3 linked regions of the Homo sapiens genome follow. The protein of the gene in region 3 purifies or fractionates together with the protein of the main gene of each other region. This does not show direct contact. Each region holds a gene or a part of one and is shown on either strand. Other genes may lie near its edges.

What was found. The genes of interacting proteins can lie anywhere in the genome.
Region 1: the proteins of SMARCB1 (region 3) and BCL7B purify together in Homo sapiens (affinity purification with mass spectrometry; 6 studies listed by BioGRID and IntAct, with this or other methods). This does not show direct contact.
Region 2: the proteins of SMARCB1 (region 3) and HDAC2 purify together in Homo sapiens (affinity purification with mass spectrometry; 5 studies listed by BioGRID and IntAct, with this or other methods). This does not show direct contact.

The regions. Positions count from the first base shown.
Region 1 is NC_000007.14:73,554,667-73,562,286, forward strand, and holds the start of BCL7B (B-cell CLL/lymphoma 7 protein family member B), read right to left. Parts: upstream 3,025-7,620; 5' UTR 2,913-3,024; coding exon 2,821-2,912; intron 2,571-2,820; exon of another isoform or gene 2,375-2,570; intron 1-2,374. UniProt on the Homo sapiens protein: Positive regulator of apoptosis. Plays a role in the Wnt signaling pathway, negatively regulating the expression of Wnt signaling components CTNNB1 and HMGA1.
Region 2 is NC_000006.12:113,933,125-113,940,148, forward strand, and holds part of HDAC2 (histone deacetylase 2), read right to left. Parts: 3' UTR 1-7,024. UniProt on the Homo sapiens protein: Histone deacetylase that catalyzes the deacetylation of lysine residues on the N-terminal part of the core histones (H2A, H2B, H3 and H4).
Region 3 is NC_000022.11:23,831,965-23,838,532, reverse strand, and holds the end of SMARCB1 (SWI/SNF-related matrix-associated actin-dependent regulator of chromatin subfamily B member 1), read right to left. Parts: intron 4,962-6,568; coding exon 4,830-4,961; intron 4,393-4,829; coding exon 4,353-4,392; 3' UTR 3,707-4,352; coding exon of another isoform or gene 3,554-3,706; 3' UTR 1,665-3,553; coding exon of another isoform or gene 1,571-1,664; 3' UTR 1,474-1,570; coding exon of another isoform or gene 1,379-1,473; 3' UTR 875-1,378; coding exon of another isoform or gene 679-874; 3' UTR 524-678; downstream 1-523. Other genes in the region: DERL3 (derlin-3), read left to right, coding at 88-395, 802-874, 1,379-1,469, 3,554-3,706.

The sequences.
Region 1 (7,620 bases), on a different chromosome or scaffold from region 3:
GCACACCTGTAGTCCCGACTACTCAGGAGGCTGAGGCGGAAGAACTGCTTGAACCCCAGAGGCGGACACTGCAGTGAGCCAAGACCACGCCACTGCACTCCAGCCTGGGTGACAGGCAAGACTGGGTCTCAAAAAAAAAAAAAAAAAACAGATGACATACTGGGAGTGTAAAGAGACTGTGATGTAACAGAAGGAGCGAATTAAAGTCTTAGAAAATAACTAAAATTAATTCCTGAACAGACCACTCCATTTTCTCATTTATTCAACCAATTAGTATACAACAGGCTGTGCTAGGCCCTGGTGATGCAGGGAACAAGATCCACAGTCCCTGCCCTCACAGACCCTGTCTTATATCTGGAAACAGACATGAATAGCTCAATTCAAGATTAGTCACTTAATCATCAGGTTCAACCATATCAAATTGCCATTTTTGTAGGTTAATTAGTCAAATACAGGAGGCCAGGCACAGTGGCTCACATCTGTAATTCCAGCACTTTGGGAGGTCATGGTGGGAGGACCACTTGGAATTCAGGAGTTCAAGACCAGCTTGGCCAACATGGTGAAACCCGGTCTCCACAAAAATACAAAAAATTAGCTGGGTGTGGTGGTGTACACTTATAATCAGCTACTCGGGAGGCTGAGGCAGAATTGCTTGAACCCGGGAAGCAGAGGTTGCCGTGAGCCAAGATCGCACCATTGCACTCCAACGTGGGTGACAGAGCAAGACTCTGTCTCAAAAAAAAAGAAATCAAATATAGGAAATGTCTTATGAGTCCATCTAATACAACTGTGGAAAGGTCTATGAAGGAGACTTGATCTAGATTGGGAATCTCAAGTGGTAAACCTAAGGAAGCAACTTTTGAGCTGAGCTAGGAGTTAACTCGGCAAGAGGGAGGAGAGGAGAGAGGAAGAAGAATGCCAGGCGGCAGGAAGAGCAGAGTGACTTCATTGGTAAGACAGCGGGCATCCTGGGAAAGAGCCAGCCAAGTGAGGCAGGAAGGAGGGCCTTCTTCAGTATTTATCCTAAAAGCAAGAAGGGAACCACTGAAGCATTACTAGGGGTGCTAGGATAAGATGCACATTTTATATATTTTTTTACAGATGGGGTCTCACTGTGTTGCCCAGGCTGGAGTGCCATGGCATGATCATAGTTCACTGCAGCCTCAACTCCTGGGCTCCAGCGATCCTCCCACCACAGCCTTCCAAATAAGGCTGTGCACTTTAAAAAGGTCACTCCGCTACTCGGAAGAGAGAAAAATAAAATCACTCAGTGCAAATGAACAGACTGGGGAATGAGCAAGAGCAGAAGCAGAGAGTTTACAGGGAGGCTGGTACAGAGTTCCAGGTGACAGGGGATGGCCCTTCAGCCTAGCCTGCTAGGGGCGGGGGGGTCAAAAATGGGGAGAAGAGAAAGGTGTACCTGTTCTTAGGTTTCACCAAAACCTCGGAGGATTAAAGGTGGACGAGGAAAACCATGAGTATGTTAAACTAATATTTATACTGAAACCCAACTATATATGAAGCCCTCAGACATAAAAAAGAGAAGGAACTTCCCTCTTGTGGGGAAATGGACAGATAAACACACAAATAAAGTCCAACGTACCAACGACCTTAAAGGAGGTAAAGGGATGGGAGGAGTTAAGGAAAGCTTCCTGGCGGGAGGTAACATCTACTTGAACTTTTATTTTCTGTAGAGACGGGGTCTCACTATGTTGCCCAGGCTGGTCTCAAACTCCTGGCCTCAAGCGATCCGCCCACCTCAGCCTCCCAAAGTGCTGGGATTACATGCCTGAGCCACCTCACCTAGCCAGACCTGGGTTTTTAAATTATTAGTAGTAATTGGCTATACAAAAGAGCTGACGAAGTTGGCTGTGAAAGTTTAATGTGATGACTCCGATACACACCGATATAGTATGTATCGGAGTTCCGGATACTAAACAGGGGCTCAATCGGCATCTTCCATGAACATTTTAGACACGGGGTCTCTCTCCGTAGCCCAGGCTGGAGTGCCGTGGCACGATCATAGCTCACTGCAGCCTCCAACTCCTGGGTCCCAGCAATCCTCCCACCACAGCCTCCCAAGTAAGGATGTGCACTTTAAAAAGACCACTCTGCTACTTGGAAGTGAGAAAAATAAAATCACACAGTGCAAATGATGAACGGACTGGGGAATGAACAAGAGCAGAAGCAGGGAAATTAGAGGGAGGCTGGTACATAGTTTGCAAAGGACTCTCCTGACAGCCGCCGGGGCAGCAAGAGAAAATGCCTACCAAGCTCGCGGCGCAGGGGCCGGTTACTGGGGGAAAGGGAGGGGTATCCCTCTGGATGACACCAGGCTTGCTCCCTTGACAGATGGACTAACCCAGAAACTCACCCAACTTCAACGCCTGAATACGCAGAGCGCTCAGCCTGGCGGGCTGACACCACTCCAGGGCTACTCGCTATTATCAAGAGGAAGCCTGGAAACGCAGGCGGGGCCACTGCCCAGGAAGAGGGGAGGGCGGGCCCCGGGCTGGGCCGGGCGCGGGCACCGACGCCAGGCAGCTCCAGTCCGGGCCGGAAGCCGGAATCCCCTCCCAGGCGGCGCGCGGCAGCAGCCGCAGCAGGTGGGCGGGCCCGCGAGCCGGGAGGACCGCTGATTGGCCGCGGCCGGCGCGCCCTCTGACCTCACGCCGACGCCAGCGGCGCCCTCCTCCCGCCTTCTCCCGCACCCCCCTCCCCCAGCGCCGGCCGGTCGGCTCCCACCTGACCCGCCAGTCCCACGCTCCTCAGGGCCTGGATCCGCGACCCCCGCCAGCCCCCTAAGCTCCGGCCCCTCACCATTTCCGCACTTTCTCGATGGCCGCCATCACCTTCTTGATGTCGTCCTTGGCCCGGCTGCGGGTCTCCGCCCGGACCGACCGGCCCGACATGGCGGCGGCGGGAGCGGCGGGGGCCGGGGCACTGCTCCCAAGACACCGGGGATCGCGCGCCTCACGCGCCGCCGCCCGCCCGCCGCCGCCGCAGCGTCACAGCGGCCGTCGCCCCCTCCGTGCGCGCGTGCGCGAGAAAGCGCGCGCACCCGCCCGCCCCTTGGGGCTCACGGCCTCAGCGCGCCTGCGCGCCCCGCCCGGGGCGTCCCTCCTGAGTGCCCCGGGAGTCCCCTGAGCCCCCTACCCGGGCCGGGGTGCGAGGCGGGTTGGGCGCACGTGCTTGTGGTCAGGGCGAGGTGCGAGGTGCCGCCGGTGGGCAACCTGGTTCTCTTCCCTGAGAGTTTGGAGGTCGGCTCCCTGCTCTGGCCAGCGTGTTAGGAACCTGACCCTGTGGAACCGCACTCCTGCGCCATCTCTGTCCTCCCGCCTCTCCTGCCCAGCACCTTTGCCCTCTGGCTCCTACGCTGTGCTCCAACCACGCCTTTCTTAAGGATGGCTTCCGGTCTTTGCACACACCTGTTCCTCACCTGGAATCCCCTCCTCTCTTTACCAGATGAACTGCTTTCCCAGCATTCAGACCACATTCTTGCCTTTTCTCGAGTATCTAGTAGTCCCAAGTATTTGGGAGGCTGAAGCGGGAGGATCACTTGACCCCAGGAATTTGAGGCTGCCGTCAGCTATGATATGATCGCACCTGTGAATAGCCACTGCACTCCAGCCTGGGCAACATATGGAGACCCCATGTCTAAACGAGACCCCGTCTCTAAAGTAAATAAATAAAAAGATGTCTATTTTGTGCAAGACTCTGTACCTAAAGCTGAAGACATACGTGGTTTTGGTTTCAAAGAGCTTCCAGTTTGTTTATTTATTGAGACGGAGTCTCGCTCTGTGACTCAGGCTGGAGTGCAGTGGTGTGATCTCCGCTCACTGCAACCTCCGCCTCCCGGGTTCAAGCGGTTCTTCTGCCTCAGCCTCCTGAGTAGCTGGGATTACAGGCGGGTGCCACCACGCCCAGCTAATTTTTGTAATTTTAGTAGAGACGGGGTTTTATCATGTTGGTCAGGCTGGTCTGGAACTCCTGACCTCGTGATCTGCCCGCCTTGGCCTCTCAAAGTGCTGGGATTACAGGCGTGAGCCACCACGCCTGGCCTTTTTTTTTTTGAGACGGAGTCTCGCTCTTTTGCCCAGGCTGGAGTACAGTGGTGTGATCTCGGCTCACTACAATCTCCGCCTCCCGGGTTCAAGCAATTTTCTGTCTCAGCCTTCCGAGTAGCTGGGATTATAGTCGTCCGCCATCACACCCAGCTAATTTTTTTATTTTTAGTGGAGATGGGGTTTCACCATGTTGGTCAGGCTGGTCTTGAACTCCTGACCTCGTGATCCACCTGCCTCGGCCTCCCAAAGTACTGGGATTACAGGCGTGAGCCACCGCACCCGGCCCAGTTTATTTATTCATGTGGAGAGGGGATCTCACTATGTTGTCCAGGCTGGTCTTGAACTCCTGGTCTCAAGGGATCCTCACAAAGTGCTGGGATTACAGGCATGAGCCACTGTGACTGGCTGAGCTTCCAGTTTAGTAGAACATTCAGACGAAAAAAAAATATTTATTTTTTACTTTTACTTATTTTTTGGTACAGGGCCTTGCTCAAGTGATCCTTCTGCCTCAGCCTCCTGTGTAGCTGAGACCACAGGCGAGGGCCACCATGCCTCGCTGACATTTTTTTTTTTTTTTTTTTGGTAGAGACAGGGTCTTCCTATGTTGCCCAGGTTGGTCTTGAACACCTGGACTCAATTGATCCTCCTTCCTCGGCCTCCCACAGTGCTGGGATTGCAGACGTGAGTCACTGGGTCCAGCTTCCCAAAGCATATTTAAAATGCTATTTGATAAATGCTAGCCTAGGCGGAGCATGGTGGCTCACGCCTGTAATCCCAGCACTTTGGGAGGCCAAGGTGGGTGGATCATTTGAGGTCAGGAGTTTGAGATCAGCCTGTCCAACGTGGCAAAACCCCATCTCTACTAAACATACAGAATTAGCTGCTTGGAAAGCTGAGGCAGGAGAATCGCTTGAACCCAGGAGGTGGAGGTTGCAGTGAGCCAAGATCGCACCATTGCACTCCAGCCCGGGCAACAAGAACAAAACTCCATCTTGGAAAAAATAAATTAATTAAACAAATAAGTAAAATGCTATTTGATAAATGCCAGCTTAAGTAGGGGAGGGGAGGTGTAAGATGCTATGGCTTTTATTCCTAGTCTGCAGCAAAGAAAAAAGAGGTGTTATGACAACCTTAATCTTGAAGCTGACCTCTAAAAATAGGGTAGGTGCTGTTACTCCCAGGGCAGTGTTCACAGATGCTACAGATGCTCAATAAATGTTTGCATGAATGTTGAATCCAGTGCAAGCTCTTGTCCTCTTTGCCCCCACCCAATTGCAGGCAGGTGTCACCCACGCTTGCAGTATGCGGAGAGGGTCCTGTAGCAGCTGTTTCAGGACACAGCTTGGGACAGAAAGCAGATTGGTAGTGGCTGTTCTCACCTATAAAGAAACTAATTTCCATGTGCTCCAGAGAAATGCCTAGCTAGCCCTGAACTTGAGACAGCCTCTGATTATGAGTCAGCCTTTCATGATCAAGCAACATAGGGCAAGCATATGTCATCTTACTGGCGAGGGGGCCAGAAATAGCTTCTGCCTGACTGAGGAGTGCAAAAGCTGAACCAGCATGTGGAGTGAAAAGATGATTCTAGAAATAACGGGATCAAAGGTGGCACATTTGTTGTTCAGACCCAGCCGATCCAAAATAACCGCAGATTGCCTAAGCACCTGCTGTACGCCCTAGCACAGTGGACACTGCAGGTGATGTGAAGTTGAGTAAGACACACTCCTTGTCCTTGGGGTGAAGGTGAGGAAAGCAGTAGAAAGGCAGAACATACGTGCCAAGAGAGAGGCCAGCCCTTGAGACTTCTCCAGTTCTGCCCATAGATCCCCCTGGTTGAGGCACACAGCCCCTGTGTCTGTCTCACCCTTGTCCAAATCCTCCCACGTGAGGTTTCTTGTCTGTAGCTTCCTTCTCGTCCACAGCCCAGCGCTCCTCCCAGCTGCACAGGTTCCCTGCACACATGTCTCCCCCAGCTCACCCAGCCAGTCGTCTTCCTGGGGCAAAGTCCCAGAGACCCCCCCAACCTTGTTTTCTCCCTACATTTGTCCACCTAGTCCTACATTCCCCACCTCATCTTCCACTGGGGCTCGGTCTGTGTAAGAGAGTGATCAAAGTGGGCACCTACCACCTATTCCTCATAGCCTACCCAAATGCTCTGTGTTGATACCCTTTTTTTTTCTTTTTCTTTCTTTTTTAGACAGAGTTTCGCTCTTGTCACCCAGGCTGGAGTGCAGTGGCGCAGTCTCGGCTCACCGCAACCTCCGCCTCCCTGGTTCAAGCCATTCTCCTGCCTCAGCCACCTGAGTAGCCGGGATTACAGGCATGCGCCACCACGCCTGGCTAATTTTGTATTTTTAGTAGAGACGGGGTTTCTCCATGTTGGTCAGGCTGGTCTCGAACTCCCGACCTCAGGTGATCCGCCTGCCTCGACTTCCCAAAATGCTGGGATTATAAGCATGAGCCACTGCGCCCAGCCTCTTTTCTTTTTTTCCCTTAAGACGGAGTTTTGCTTTTGTTTCCCAGGCTGGAGTGCAGTAGTGCGATCTTGGCTCACTGCAACCTCCGCCTCCTGGGTTCCAGTGATTCTCCTGCTTCAGCCTCCTGAGTAGCTGGGACTAGAGGTGCCCACCACCACACTCGGCTAATTTTTTGTGTTTTTAGTAGAAACGGAGTTTCACCATGTTGGCCAGGCTTGCCTCGAGCTCCTGACCTCAGGTGATATACCCACCTCGGCCTCCCAAAGTGCTGGGATTACAGGCGTGAGCCACCACACCCAGCCTGACACCATTTTCTTAAAATAATAATAATAATAATAATAATAATAATAATCAGGTCCGGCACGGTGGCTCACACCTGTAATCCCAGCACTTTGGGAGGCCGAGGCTGTTGGATCAGAAGGTCAGGAGTTCGAGACCAGCCTGGCCAATATGGTGAAACCCCGTCTCTACTAAAGACACAAAAAATTAGCTGGGTGTGGTGGCGCGCGCCTGTAATCCCAGCTACTAGGGAGGCTGAGGCAGGAGAATCACTTTAACCCAGGAGGCAGAGGTTGCAGTGAGCCGAGATTGTGCCACTGCACTCCAGCTTGGGTGACAGAGCGAGATTCTATCTCAAAAAGAAAAAAAAAATCACATCTTGTCATTTTCTAGGTGAAAGGCTTGTGCTAGATGAGATGCCGAGGTGGATACAGAGGAGCCACCCCAGATCTCTGCATTGGGCGACCTGCATTCAAGGGCTCAGCTTCCTTTCTCACTTTGAGTACAAGCTACAGCGGCTGACAAGGCCCCATCCATCCCCAGGCATCATCCTGTTAATTCTCTGACCTCACCTCCTACAACTCTACCCGTGCTGTCTCTGCTCCAAATCCACTGGCCTCCTTGCTCGTCTGAAAGCACAGTCCAGCTCCTGCTTCAAGTCTCTGCACTTCCGCTTCCTCTACTGCAGCACCCATCAACCATATATTTACATGGCTCCCTCCCTTACCTCCTTAAGGTCTTTATTCAAATGTTATCTTCTTGGCCAGGCACAGTGGCTCACGCCTGTAATCCCAGCA
Region 2 (7,024 bases), on a different chromosome or scaffold from region 3:
ATGTTGACATCAAAACTTTGCAGTTTGCTTTCAAAATGATGCTCATGTTCTCATTCACTAAGTGATTAAAGTTAACATCATCAGTAATGAGAGAAATTGAAATCATGCATTACCTGACTGGGTGCACTGAGAACACAGCATCATTCCTGTGATATTCTTGCCCAAAACATGCAACCTATATCTAACCATGAAGAAACATCAGACATGCCCACTGAGATATTCTACAAGGCCAGAGGGTTAAGTGACTTTCCAAATTTCACAGGACTTGTTGATGGCAGAACTGGAATAGGATTCAGTTATTCTGACTCCTGGACCTGAGATTCGATCCTATCCCATCCCATCTTATCCCATCTCCTTCTGTCCTCTTCAATCCTCTTCTATCCCCTTCCATTCCCCTTCCCACTTCTATTTCCATTCCAGTCCATTCTATTCCCATTCCATTTCACTCAAATTCCATTCCATTCCACAAATAATAATTGAGGCTTTATTTATGTGTTAGGCACTGTTCTAGACACTGGAGATTAATCCCCAGTGGAGTGTAAGACAAACAAAACCCTTGCCCTTATGAAACTCTTAATCCAGTGAAAGTAAGCAGAATGGTGGCTGCTCCTTGTCTGACATTCTTTGTGTGTGTGTATGTATATTATATAATATACATACACACACATATATACACATGTATATATATATATGTGTGTGTATACATATATATAGAAGGAATTCTCTTTCTTTTATCCCTTATTCCAATCCTGTTATTATTAAGGATTATATTTAACTTTACATGTTCAAATTAGTATAGTTCCTGTCTCCTGACTGAACGCTGATGCAGGGAAACTCTGGTCTCTGACTTTGATTTTTTTTTAATAGTAATGTTTGGTACAATCAACTGACTTAAAACTTTAAAAAACTGAATTTCTACGGGTAAATGTTTAAATATGAGAAAAAAGTTGACTTTAGAATGTCTAATAAGCCTATCCTATTCAACAACCAAGAAATAGATTTCATACCTATTACACATAAAGATATAAAGGCATATTTTGGACTTTAAAGAGCTTGCAGGACAGGAAAGGCAAAAACATTTTATCCTGAATGCCAACTATCTGGGTTAATGACTATCTGGGTTGATACGCATCTCAAGGCCAGAAAGGAATGATCAATTTGTGACATCAGACAGGTAAAAGACGGAGTGCTGGAAAAGCATGTCAGCTGTTACCTAGTCAGTTTCATAGATTTAGTAAACTGAAGCACAGAAATTTAAATGACTTGCCCAAAGCAAAGTTGTGTAATGTAAAGGCTGGTGCTAGACCCATATATGTGATTTCCAGTGCATTGTTCTTTACTTGTTGCTGCTCTAGATGATGATGGTGTTTTGAGGTCAGGTCGGAAGTACAAACAATTTAAGATGAGGCTTGTTTACCTTACCTATAGGGGTCCAGATGTGTTTTTCTGGGAAATCAGATTTATTGCCCACCATAGTCACAAACAGACTGGAAATAAGATAGATTTACAGAATTTTCTGCCTAACTCTAGAAATAGGATGGCAGAAGAGTCATTACATTAAGAAAGCCCAATGCTGCCATTTACTTTAAGACATATAAATTTGGATTTCAAACAAAACAGCTTACAAAAGGGTGTTTGGCATCAAAAGGGAATAGCACAGGAATTATACCTAAGTCCATTACATATAACACTGAACTATACAAGTAAATGTGTTTGACAATAACAATGCTTATTTGATTGTTGGGGAAGGTGACAGCTAGTAATACGTTGGACTTGAATTATATTTTTTCCTGGAAAATGGTATCTAGAGTAAATTTTTCGCACCTACTTGCCCAAACTTTCTTATCAGATGCTGAGTTGAAAAGAACATACCTAGATTCTACGGAAATTAGAAATCTAGCCTTTTTAAGAATATAACTTTGGAAATACTGGTGAATGGTAGATCTCCCATCCTCATGCTTGGAGGGCTATTATCTACCACAGGGCCACACAACAGTGCCCTCTTAAGCCCCTTAATTTCACCTAGTCTAGCCAAAGGCAACACAAGTTCAAACTTTCCGGCTAGACTTCAGAATAAGAAAATTTTTGAAGTGCATTTCTCACTTAAGGACATAGCATATTTAAAAAATAAGAGCAAAAGGGGAAATTCTTGTCTTTTTAAATCAAACATTATTTGTTGCCAGAAGTGTAATGACTTTTTGTTGGTATTTGTTAAGTACAGCCAGTTTTGATAATGTGCTCTCTTTTACTTTAGGAATTGCCTGTCCGTACTTTCCTTTAAAAGTTTTACCTGTACATCATCCTAGTAAGTATATGGCAAGGGCAGGGAAGTGACCCTGGATGTTTATTTCTGAAGAAACAAAAAAGATGACTAGTAGAGGATACAAGAGAAGCTGGAAGCTACTGATTTATCAATAGAATAAAAAATCCACAACACAAAAACAGATTAGAGTCTTCTTTGTTCAACTCACTCCTAAATACAAACCACTGGCTGCAAAATGGGTCTGGCCAAAAAAAATCTCCTATTCAGAATCCTGCTACTCATTTTACCTTAGAAATAATTATACATTTCTTTAACATTTAGAGTAAAAACAATCTTAATAAAAAGAGCAAATAACAGAATCTAATCAAGGTGTCTTCTGTCCTTAACTGTTTGTTCTACTAAAAAAGAATTTTTCATTAATAATCCTAATCATAACTCTGCAGTGTTCAAAGACCAAAGGGGTTAGGTACTTAGTTCAGTAAACAAAAGTCGTGGAACAAGCACCCAATGCCCCTGAATATTAACTTCACTATAACTATAATTCCTAGAAATAAATTTCAATTCTTTCCCATTCTGTATACTAACTGATTCTTACCACCAGTCAAAACAGAAAATTATTCTGGCTCTAATATTCAGTTCCATTTTGTCTGACTAGCAAAGTCACAATTAGTCAATGACTACCAGATACACTCTACTGTGTTTTGCAGATGTAAAACTTAGAAATTAGTGTTATAATTCTTATAGGAAAACCTAAATCAGTAAACTTAATTGTAGTTTAATTCAAAGTTTTTAATCCAATATTGCATTCAAAAAGAATCTGTTAATACATGTTGCTCTGCTTGTTACATGGCCACCAAGTGACTATAAGAGAAAACACACAGAAAAAAAAATTTTAAATGCAGTATCTGCCATCTTGTGGTACAGTGAGGAAATGCAGCAATTGAGAAGCTTCTAAATGCTGTAATCCTAAACATTTCTCCGCATTGCTCATGTAAATAGCCAATAATAACAATATGATAGTTCTATTTTTTCTGTAATCTACTTAATGCCATTTTTCTTGAGATTATCCTTGAGTAAATTACAGAGGCATCAAGATCCCCCCAAAGTTGTCAAATATTATTCGTATCCTTGCTAAAATCAGGTCTCCAAAAGATTGCTTCTCTATCCACTATGACCTAGTAGTCTTCACACTAGTAGGCATCAAACTGCAATAAAAGGCTCAGATACAACCCATCTGGCATCTAAAGGAACACTCAAAAATTTAACACTTCCCCTGGCACCACTCTCACCCATCTATCTACCTTTACCTCATAACAATAGCAAGCCAGGCGCGGTGGCTCATGCTTGTAATCCCAGCACTTTGGGAGGCCCAGGCGGGTGGATCATTTGAGGTAAGGAGTTCAAGACCAGCCTGGACAATATGGTGAGAACCCGTCTCTACTAAATATACAAAAATTAGCCAGGTGTGGTGGTGCACACCTGTACTCCCAGCTGCTTGGGAGGCTGAAGCATGAGAATCACCTGAACCTAGGAAGCAGAGGATGCAGTGAGCCAAGATCATGCCACTGCACTCCAACCTGGGCAACAGAGTGAGACTCTTTCAAAAAAAAAAGAAAAAAAAATAGCAGCTAACCCTTACTGAGCATTAACTATGTTATTAACTCAATCCTCACAACAAACCTATTAAGTAGGGACTATTATTTTCCTCATTTTAAATGATGAAGCAACTGAGGCACAGAGGTTAGTAATTTTCCTAAGATTATGGTGGAGATCCTAAGCTATTGAAATGATTACTACTTGTTTTCAAAAGCCCTTATCATTTATATCACAATATGAATAACAAATATTATGAATCGCAGTTATCAAAAAAACTTCAGCAGTATTACTACATCAAAACCATAAAAAACAGAAGATGTAGGTGACTAACTTCAATGTAAGAACTTCAAATAATTGCCCATTGACAGAATGCTAGCAGCTCTGGTAGAAGGGCAAAGCTTAGATATGATGTAACTAGCTTAGAGTACCAATGCTGACTTAGAACAGCATTCACCCATGCCATAGAGAACTGAGACAATGTGGCACCTTCATTAAATGAATTAAAGAGCTTTACTTGAGTTAATATCTTAGTTTACCAAACCTGACCTGAGTTTCCTCAAACACTTGACAATAGTTGCTTTCTAAGTCTGTAACATGATAGGTTTAGGCCGGGTACGGTGGCTCATGCCTGAGTCAGGAGAATCGCTTGAGCCTAGGAGTTTGTGACCAGCCTGGGCAACACAGGGAGACACCATCTCTCCAAAATAAAAATGTAAAAATCAGCTAGGTGTGATGGTGCACACTTGTAGTCCCAGCTACTTGGGAGGCTGAGGTGGGAGAATACCCTAAGCCTAGAAGTTCTAAGATGTAGTGAGATATGATCAGGCTACCACACTCCATCCTGGGTGACCGAGATCCTTTCTCTAAAAAAAAGAGATAAACAGCCAGGTGCGGCAGCTCACACCTGTAATCCCAGCACTTTGGAAGGCCAAGGTGGGTGGATCATGAGGTCAGGAGTTCGAGGCCAGCCTGGCCAACATAGTGAAACCCCGTCTCTACTAAAAATGCGAACAATTAGCTGGGCGTGGTGACAGGCGCCTGTAATCCCAGCTACTCAGGAGGCTGAGGCAGGAGAATGGCTTCAACCTGGGAGGCGGAGGTTGCAGTGAGCCGAGATTGCGCCATTGCACACCAGCCTGGGCAACAGCGAGACTCCGTCTCAAAAAAAGAAAAAATAAATAAACATAATAGGTTTAAAAAACTAAGTTAAAAAATAAGTCTCTCTATAGCTTTTTATTTACTGAGGTTAAAGATCTTTTCATATTTACAAACTATTTATATGTATTTGTTTCCCAGTTCACATCCTTATACATTTTGTTCCTCTACTATCTTTAGATATGAGCCTTTTGACCTGGATGAGTTACAAATCTGCCTCCCACTCTGTCTTTTGTCATTTTTCTTGACTTGTCTTCTAAGTTTTTGTTGGTCCACTGAACTAATTTTTTTTTTGTTATCAAATATATCTTTTATAGTTGAGTTTGGTGTCACACTTAGGCCTTCTTCAATCCATTTGCTTTAAGAGTTTAGGTTTTTGGTAGTTTTATCTTTTCCTATTTAAATCTTCTAGTGGAGGGCAGAAAACTGGGTTTTCCATTTGGTTACCAGTTGTTGTCCCAATTCCACTTACAAAATAATGTCTTTCCTTGCCAATTTCAAATATCATTTTTATCCTATATGAATTTTTTAAAGTATTAGGGTATTCTGACATCTTACTATGTTACATTGACCTTACTAGACACAAGAACCATAGCTTCTTTACATATTATTTCTAAAAATTTTGTTATTACAAATGGGGGTCTTTGTTCTTCCAACAGACTTGGTCACTAAGTGTTACTGATTTCTGTTTATTAATGCTGTACCAAATCACCTTGCTGAAATTGCTTTAGATAGTTCTCTTGAGGTTTTAGTTGTATATAACCAACTACTTAGAAAAACAAAACCTCTTAAATACACCCAAGGAGATCCAGTATAGTATTGAAGTGTACAATTTCAGTATGTTCACACAATGGAACATAATACATAGCAGTCAAAATGAACTATACTTAACATGTGTCAACAGGGGTAGATCAGAATATTAAATGAAAAAAAGCAAAGGGCCTTTGTCTCCTGGCACCCGGATACTGAGCTCAGTTTCCGTCTTCACTGTTCCATCTCCTCCATCCACTACTCCAGGATCTCATAGGTGACTCTACCACAGCCCCTGTTGTCCTGTGAGCTGCAGGCACTGGGAAATCCACAGGGAGGATGCCAGAACATCTGGAGCCTGCGAAATGGTATTTTCTTATTTAAAACAGGATCATCATGGTAGACGGGAGGCATGGTGGGAGGGGGGCGAGGGATAAAAGATTACAAATAGGGTGCAGTGTACACTGCTTGGGTGATGGGTCCACCAAAATCCCACAAATCACCACTAAAGAACTTAATCATGTAACCAAACACCACCTGTTCCCCAATAAGCTATGGAAAAATAAAAATAAAAAAAGCAAAGTTACAGAATTGTCCAAATACATACCATCTATGTTTCACAAACACTAAATACATTTCATTATCCCCCTAACGAAGGGACTAAGTTTCTTAGTTCCTAATGTCATAAAGGTTTACAGATTGATAACAAATATGTAGCAAAAGTACAAAAACATGGGTAAAATATTCACAAAAACATGGATAAAATAATCACAATGGTGATTACTTCTTAAGGCTGGGAGGGAGGGAGGATTACAAACGACAAAGTACACAAAGAGAGCTTCAATTTCGGTGTATTTTAAGAAAAAAACACCGAAGCAAATATAGCAAAAGTAAAATATTTGTTAAGTCGGGGTGGGTGCACAGCTGTTCATTACAAAAGTCTAGGTGCTATTGTGAATGTCTGAAACATTTAAGAGGCTTGTAGAGAAATATTTTTTCTTTTAATATTTTACTGCACTGAAGAGAAATACTTTTGACTGAATTATCTTCTGGCATTCTGTAATTTTTAATCTCAAAAGAATCAATGTGGGCCTGACAAAAAGGGAGATTTCACTGATTTTGGCAAGTTCCTAAAATGTTTTGTCTTCTTTGCACATCTTAGTAGCAGGAGTTACCCCCATTTGTCTGCTTCCTGCTACTAGAATGTAAGCTCTGAGTGTAAGCTCTGAGTGAAAGCATTTTTCCATTATATTCAGTTAC
Region 3 (6,568 bases):
GGAGGGCAGGCCGGCCGGGCTGGGAGAGAGGCCGGGACGGGGAAACTGAGGCCCCGCCTGGTGGCACTTCCTATACCGACGCCGTAGGTTCCGCTACTGCCGCATGCTGGAAGAGGGCTCCTTCCGCGGCCGCACGGCCGACTTCGTCTTCATGTTTCTCTTCGGGGGCGTCCTTATGACCGTATCCTTCCCGCAGGCTCTGGAACCTCGGGCTAGGGCGCCTCGGCGTCCAGCCTGTGTTGGTCCTGGGGCCAACACAGCCATGCCAGAGAGGGACACAGTCGCTGTCTCCAGCTTAGTATGTGTTGAGGGCCCACTCTGTGCTCAGCTGCAGGGGTCAGGGCTAGATCTTCAGTGCTGTATGCAAAATACAAAGCCATGCACAAAAGAGCCAGGTGGGTTGTCAGGGCCACTAGCTGAGCCCTGAATGCGAGTAGCCGGGAGAAACTGGGGCAGGGACAGGCAGTGGTTGGGCCCTGGGATGAGGCTGTAGGTGTGCAGGGCAGATTTCGTGGGACCTGAAGCCCGTGGAGTGTGTCGCCTTTATTGGACTGGCTCATCTTGATGAGGGAATAGCACATAGGGGAGATGAGGGGAAGAATTCCAGGGTCTTGGGAAGTCAGAGGGGCCCTGGGCTTGGGCTGAGGCCTGCACCGGAGCACCTTGACTCTGGCCCAGCTGCTGGGACTCCTGGGCAGCCTGTTCTTCCTGGGCCAGGCCCTCATGGCCATGCTGGTGTACGTGTGGAGCCGCCGCAGCCCTCGGGTGAGGGTCAACTTCTTCGGCCTGCTCACTTTCCAGGCACCGTTCCTGCCTTGGGCGCTCATGGGCTTCTCGCTGCTGCTGGGCAACTCCATCCTCGTGGACCTGCTGGGTGAGCCTCCCGGTACATCTAGTCCGCCCCAGGCTGGCCACTCCCCTCAGGACACGCTGCTTATGCCCTGGGGCCCCTCTCCCATCCTTGCTGGAGTTCTCCTCACACCTGGCTCCATCCCCATCTTCCTGCCCTCCCAGCTGCTGTGCTCTTACAGCCCCTCAAGCCAGCCGGCCCACATAATTTGCATCGTCAGGACGGATCTACTGATGCTTGCACGGTCCTGATGGGAGTGAGGATGGGAGGGTCAGGGTTCCTGCCCCATGGCTCCCACTCCTCCACTATTCTCAGGCCCTCCCCTCCCTGGGTCCTGCCTGCTTCTGGGCCTTTTAAGCTTGTCCTTCACGGCCAACCCGGGGCTGGCACTCTGTGCAAGGCTTTGGGGCACTCATGCTGTGGGGCCTGCAGGGCCACCAGGCTGTGGATGGGGGCCTGGGGCAGGCTCTGCTGGTCTAGGACTCTGGGCTGTGGAGGGTGACCCCACAGTCCGTGGCTGTCTCACAGGGATTGCGGTGGGCCATATCTACTACTTCCTGGAGGACGTCTTCCCCAACCAGCCTGGAGGCAAGAGGCTCCTGCAGACCCCTGGCTTCCTGTGAGTGTTGAGAGCCCTCCCTCCCTCTCCCCACCCTCAGAAGGATCCCCACCGATGGGGACCTGTGCTGGCCTGTGCTCAACACGGGCCCCTCCCCACAGAAAGCTGCTCCTGGATGCCCCTGCAGAAGACCCCAATTACCTGCCCCTCCCTGAGGAACAGCCAGGACCCCATCTGCCACCCCCGCAGCAGTGACCCCCACCCAGGGCCAGGCCTAAGAGGCTTCTGGCAGCTTCCATCCTACCCATGACCCCTACTTGGGGCAGAAAAAACCCATCCTAAAGGCTGGGCCCATGCAAGGGCCCACCTGAATAAACAGAATGAGCTGCAGTCTCTTGGCCCACAGCACTGGCTTCCCCATCTCACCTGGCCACATCCTTCTATGCCTGCCCCGTCCTCACTCAGTGTGGCCTCTCAGCCCAACTGCAGGTGGTAGGATAGGGGTGCCCACAGAGGGCAAAGAAACTGCCCATGGTTGCCTGGCAGAGCTTTGAGCTCACAGGTTGCCAGGCAGAGCTTTTGAGCTCACAGGTGACAGGCTCAGGGTTCTCATCCTGGCCCCACCAGGGCCTTGGGCAAGTCCTGCCCACCATAGGCCTCTGCTACCTGCCAGTCAGCGGGGAAGTTCACCAGATTTCGGCTGCTGGGGCCAGGACAGGCGTCTCCTAGGTTGTGCCAAACCAGCCTACAGATGTTCCTGCCAGTGGTGCCTTCAGGCTGATGCCAATCTAGCCTCTCCTGTCTCTCATCAGCCACCCTGACAGGTGGGCGTATGCCTCATTTTTCATCTGGTGATGCCAAAGCCCCATGGATTCAGGTGCAGAAGAGGGCCAGGACTAGGTCTTCTGCCCTTTCTATGACCTCAGAGCCTAAGTTTTCACCTTAGCAGAGTTCTGAGACTGGGTGAGGCAGGGACTTCTGGAAGGTTCTGTTCCTGCCCTTTTTAGCTGAGGACGTGTGTGAGCCTTATCCGACCCCTGTGGCTCATTTTTCTCTTCTGACCTGGCAGCTTTCCTTGTTGTTCTAAGCCTGTCCATGTTGTGGTTTATTTCTGGATGCTCAGTGGCACGGGGCCTCCTCCAAAGACAGGTTGTCATTTTCATGGTAACAACACTGTTCTCTGTTGAGTCTGCCCTCCGTGTTGTAGCCAGACCTTGTGGAGATGGCTTTGCGGCGGTGTGAGCTGGCGGTCAGGAGTGAGGGCCCAGCCTTCCCGGCACCTCCCAGCCAGGTGGCCCTGCCCGACCTGTGGGGTGAGGCAGCCAAGGTTCCTTCCATCCCCCCAGTTGTGGAGACACAGGGCTGCCTCACCCTTTCATTGCCGAGGTTCCTACCTCATGGACAGAACAAACACCTCAGCAATGAAACCTGTTCATGTCTAAGAGCAGCTGGGCTGGGAATCTTCCCCTTTGTTCAAGGCCTTCCAGTAAGGCCCAGCTGTCCCCTTGCTGTGCATGGGGCTCTGGGGAGTTCCACTCTTTGATGGAGGGCAGAGGCCCTGAGTGCAAACTCCCTGGGAAGAGTCCCATGCTAACATGTGCTCAAAGGAGCCCTCCTCTCACATCTCAGCGACCAAGAACCCCAATCCCTAATCAGAGCTCTGCCTCTGCCCCACATGGGGCCCTACCCCACTTCCAGGGAGCACAGCAGCCTCTGACCCTAGCCCTGCCCTGGCAGCATGGGACCTGCCAACAGCTGAGGGTGGCAGCAGTCTGTGCTGGGATCTGTGCCCGGATCTGTGCCCATTCTCTTCAGTAAGGCTGGAGCTGCGAGCCAGTTTGCTGCCCTCCCAGATCCTGTGTCCATTCTGAAGAATGGGGACACCTCCCTATTACAGATGAGAACAGAGGGGACATGAACTCCTTGGAGGCAGGGCTGGGAAGGGACCCTGGGCTGTGTCTCCTCCCTGTACCGTGTCAACTCCAAGAGCTGGCACCAGGCCGGGAGGGCTATTCCCATATTCCTCACAGCTGGCTTGTAAGGCAGGAGCTGGCCCAGGCCACAGCACCTGCTGGGGTGGGAAAGGGCCCCAGCTGACCTGGCTATGGGTGCCACTGGAGCTAGAACAGCCCTCCTGCACCCAGGCTGGCGACAGCCCAGCAGTGCCCACACAGGACTGGGCCCTCCGCAGGGGACTTCAGAGCAGCAAGGCCCCAGCTGGCAGTAGCCTGACCATCTGGACACAGCAGAGCCAGGGCGGCCCAGGGACGGCAGGAGAGCTCGCGGCACCTTCCTGAGGCCAAGCAAGGGGAGCAGGGTTAGGGCTGTTCCTGAAAGGCAGAGAGCCTCTTGCCCTGAGCCTCACAGCTACTCTTCTCAGCTCTCTGGGTCTGGAAGGAGAACAGGCTGAGGGGAGCTGAGAGGAGCTGAGGTGCTACCCGGAGCCCCATTCACCCCCACCTGCCCACTTGGGAATCTGAGGCAGAGGAGGGTGAGGCCTGTGTGCCAACCTTGTTCACATACCACCTTCGTCCCCCCAGGCCCCGGCCCCACTCCTGGCTCTCATTATTTTTATGTTAAAACTTTGAAGAAATTGAACATGACCTGTTGAAGAAATTGAACATGACCTGTTGCCTTTTATTTAAAAACTGTTACTAGCCCTGCCTGGGGCTCCTATACAAAAACAAAACACAACCTAAAATAAGGTTTCTTCCTGACCCCAGAGACTGGGGAGGGGTAGGGAGGGTGGGGTGGGGGGCAGGACTGGGGCTCAACAAATGGAATGTGTGCCGGGAAGGGCCACCTGGAAGCCCCCACTCCACCCCCACCCGATCCTCAGGATGGCGCTGGGCTGTCCCCTCGCCTCTGTCCTTGCCAGAAGATGGAGGAGAGGCGGCCCAATCTTCTGAGATGCTCCGTGGGAGCCGTGTGCTGATGGGCTGGTTACCAGGCCGGGGCCGTGTTGGCAAGACGCCTCATCCGCCTGGAAGAGGAGTGGGGAGGGCAATGAGTCGGGGCCAGCTCCCAGCCTGGGCGCTGCCCTTCCCAAGGCTCTACAGGGCAGCCAAGTGTAGGGGTGGGAACAGAGGCAGGATGTGGGCCCCCAGCAGGGTCAGACCCAGCCTTCTCTCAGCCTCGCCTGTCTGCCACTCAGGCCCTGCTCATCACTCCAGGGACCCCAAAACCTGGATCTGGGCTGTGGTCAGACCCTCAGCCTGAGGAATTATGTTTGTTCCATGCAGGGAAACATACCCTGGCGTTTGGATGGGGCCTTATCACCCAGAAGCCTGCCTGCCTCTAGCAGCACTAGAGGTACTCTGTCTCAGAGACCATGGGAGACTGGGAAAGGCAATGGCCCTGCCTCTGCCTGGAAAGCCAGGTGCCTGTGGGCAGAGCCCAGGACCACAGGGCCAGGGGTACCTCGTGTTCCTGTCCTGGTCGCGGATCTTCTTCTCCATCTCAGCGTCTGTCAGAGTCTCCAGCAGTGGGCACCACTGGTCCGCATCGCCCGTGTTCCGGATGGCAATCTCCACTGTGGGCAGAGGGTTCTCGCTACGAGGAGGGGAGGCAGTGAGAGGAATGACTTTTCCAGCTATAGATGGAGAATCCTCAGAAAGCTTTGGCCCCTGTCTGTGCCCTGCTCCTCCCAGCAGCACTGCTGGCACCCAGTGGATGCTCCAGTCACCTGAACCTCAAGGGAGCTGCTGGAGGCGCCAGGGCCTTTCCATAACAAGTGTTGTCGCCATGACCCCATGGGCTTCCCTTCAAAGTGAACTTTCAACAGGGCTTTTGTGCCCAGCGTCTCTCTGTCTCTGAGATGGAGGAAGGGGCCACTGGCTGTGGAGGTGGTCCTTGACAGGACAGCACGGGCTGGACCATGCTGATGCCACAGTGCCAGTCAGGAGGTGGAACCTATAGGGGCAGGAGGACTGTCTGCTCCACTCAGTGTCCAGAGCCAGGGCCCACTGATCAGGGAAAGGGGATGGATGGCGAATGGGAGCAAAGGAGTCTCCCAGAAGTCCCCAGCCCCCCACTACTGAGGGCCACTGCACAGCCTGTTCCTGCATGTTCCACACACTTGCCCCTCAGCCCACCTCCTGGCCGAACAAAACCCCCGAGAGGCTGGTCTGTGCTTAGGATCAGACAGCTGTCTGGCAGGGAGCTGGACAGAAGCCGTATCCCCGGACCACACTCTGCCCTGGGTCTCACAAGGACCACCCAAATCTGCCCCGAGGTACCTTCCTCTTGCCAAAAGGACACAGCAGAGGAAGGGGGCAGCAAGGGCAGAGGCTAAACAGGCATGGGGTGGGCACAGGAGTGCTGGGGAGGTGGGAGGGTGGCTGGCTGCCGCCTCTCTGGGCTTTGATTTGCAAGTCTGTGACAGGACACTAAGGAGACCACAGCTGTGGATGCCACAGGGCCCGTGTGCCTCCCACATGCAGTGGTCCCGTCACCCCCACCTCTGAGAGCAGCTTTGGGTGCTGACAGTGTTTCCCAGTTGAGTGACACCAGACCCCTGGCTTGGCAGAAGGCCTCAGCCTGAGGTCCTAACCATGACTCTCCCACTTCCCCTCCCCTCTCTGTGGTCCTTTCCTTTCTCCTCCACTTGGGCACCTCCACTTGGCTCTCCCTAGGCTCAGTCCCCTGGGAGAAGGACACCCTGCCAGCCTGCGGCCCTGAAAAACACCATGAGCTCTGGGAGAAGCAAGGGCAGGCCGGACTCGGGGGAGGCGCCAGGTGGACACTGATAGAGAGGACAGGTCCCTGCAAACCTCATCTGGAATATGGAAACATTTATTGCTGTGAAGGGCTTTGGAAGGATGACTGTTATTAAAGCAGCCAAAACATCTCCACTGAGGGAGCTTCCTAGGGGCCAGGGACCTTCTCACAGCCTCCCTGTAGTGGGTGGCTCAAGGTTGTGGGACCAGCCTGCTTGCAGAGCGAGTCCCGGCTCTGCACATCCACACCAGTGAGCACACACCCAGCTCCAGTAGCCGTGAGCCCGTTCCAGGTTGGGCTCAGTGCTGCTCTCCTCAGCCTGGGGTCTCAGGGACTGTGGGCACAGCGCAGGGCACTGGCTGCAGCTGGCTCTCCCTGCAGCAGGCCTGACCCCTCACAGCTGAAGCTCAGCCCACCAGGTCCATGCTCATGAGTCGCAG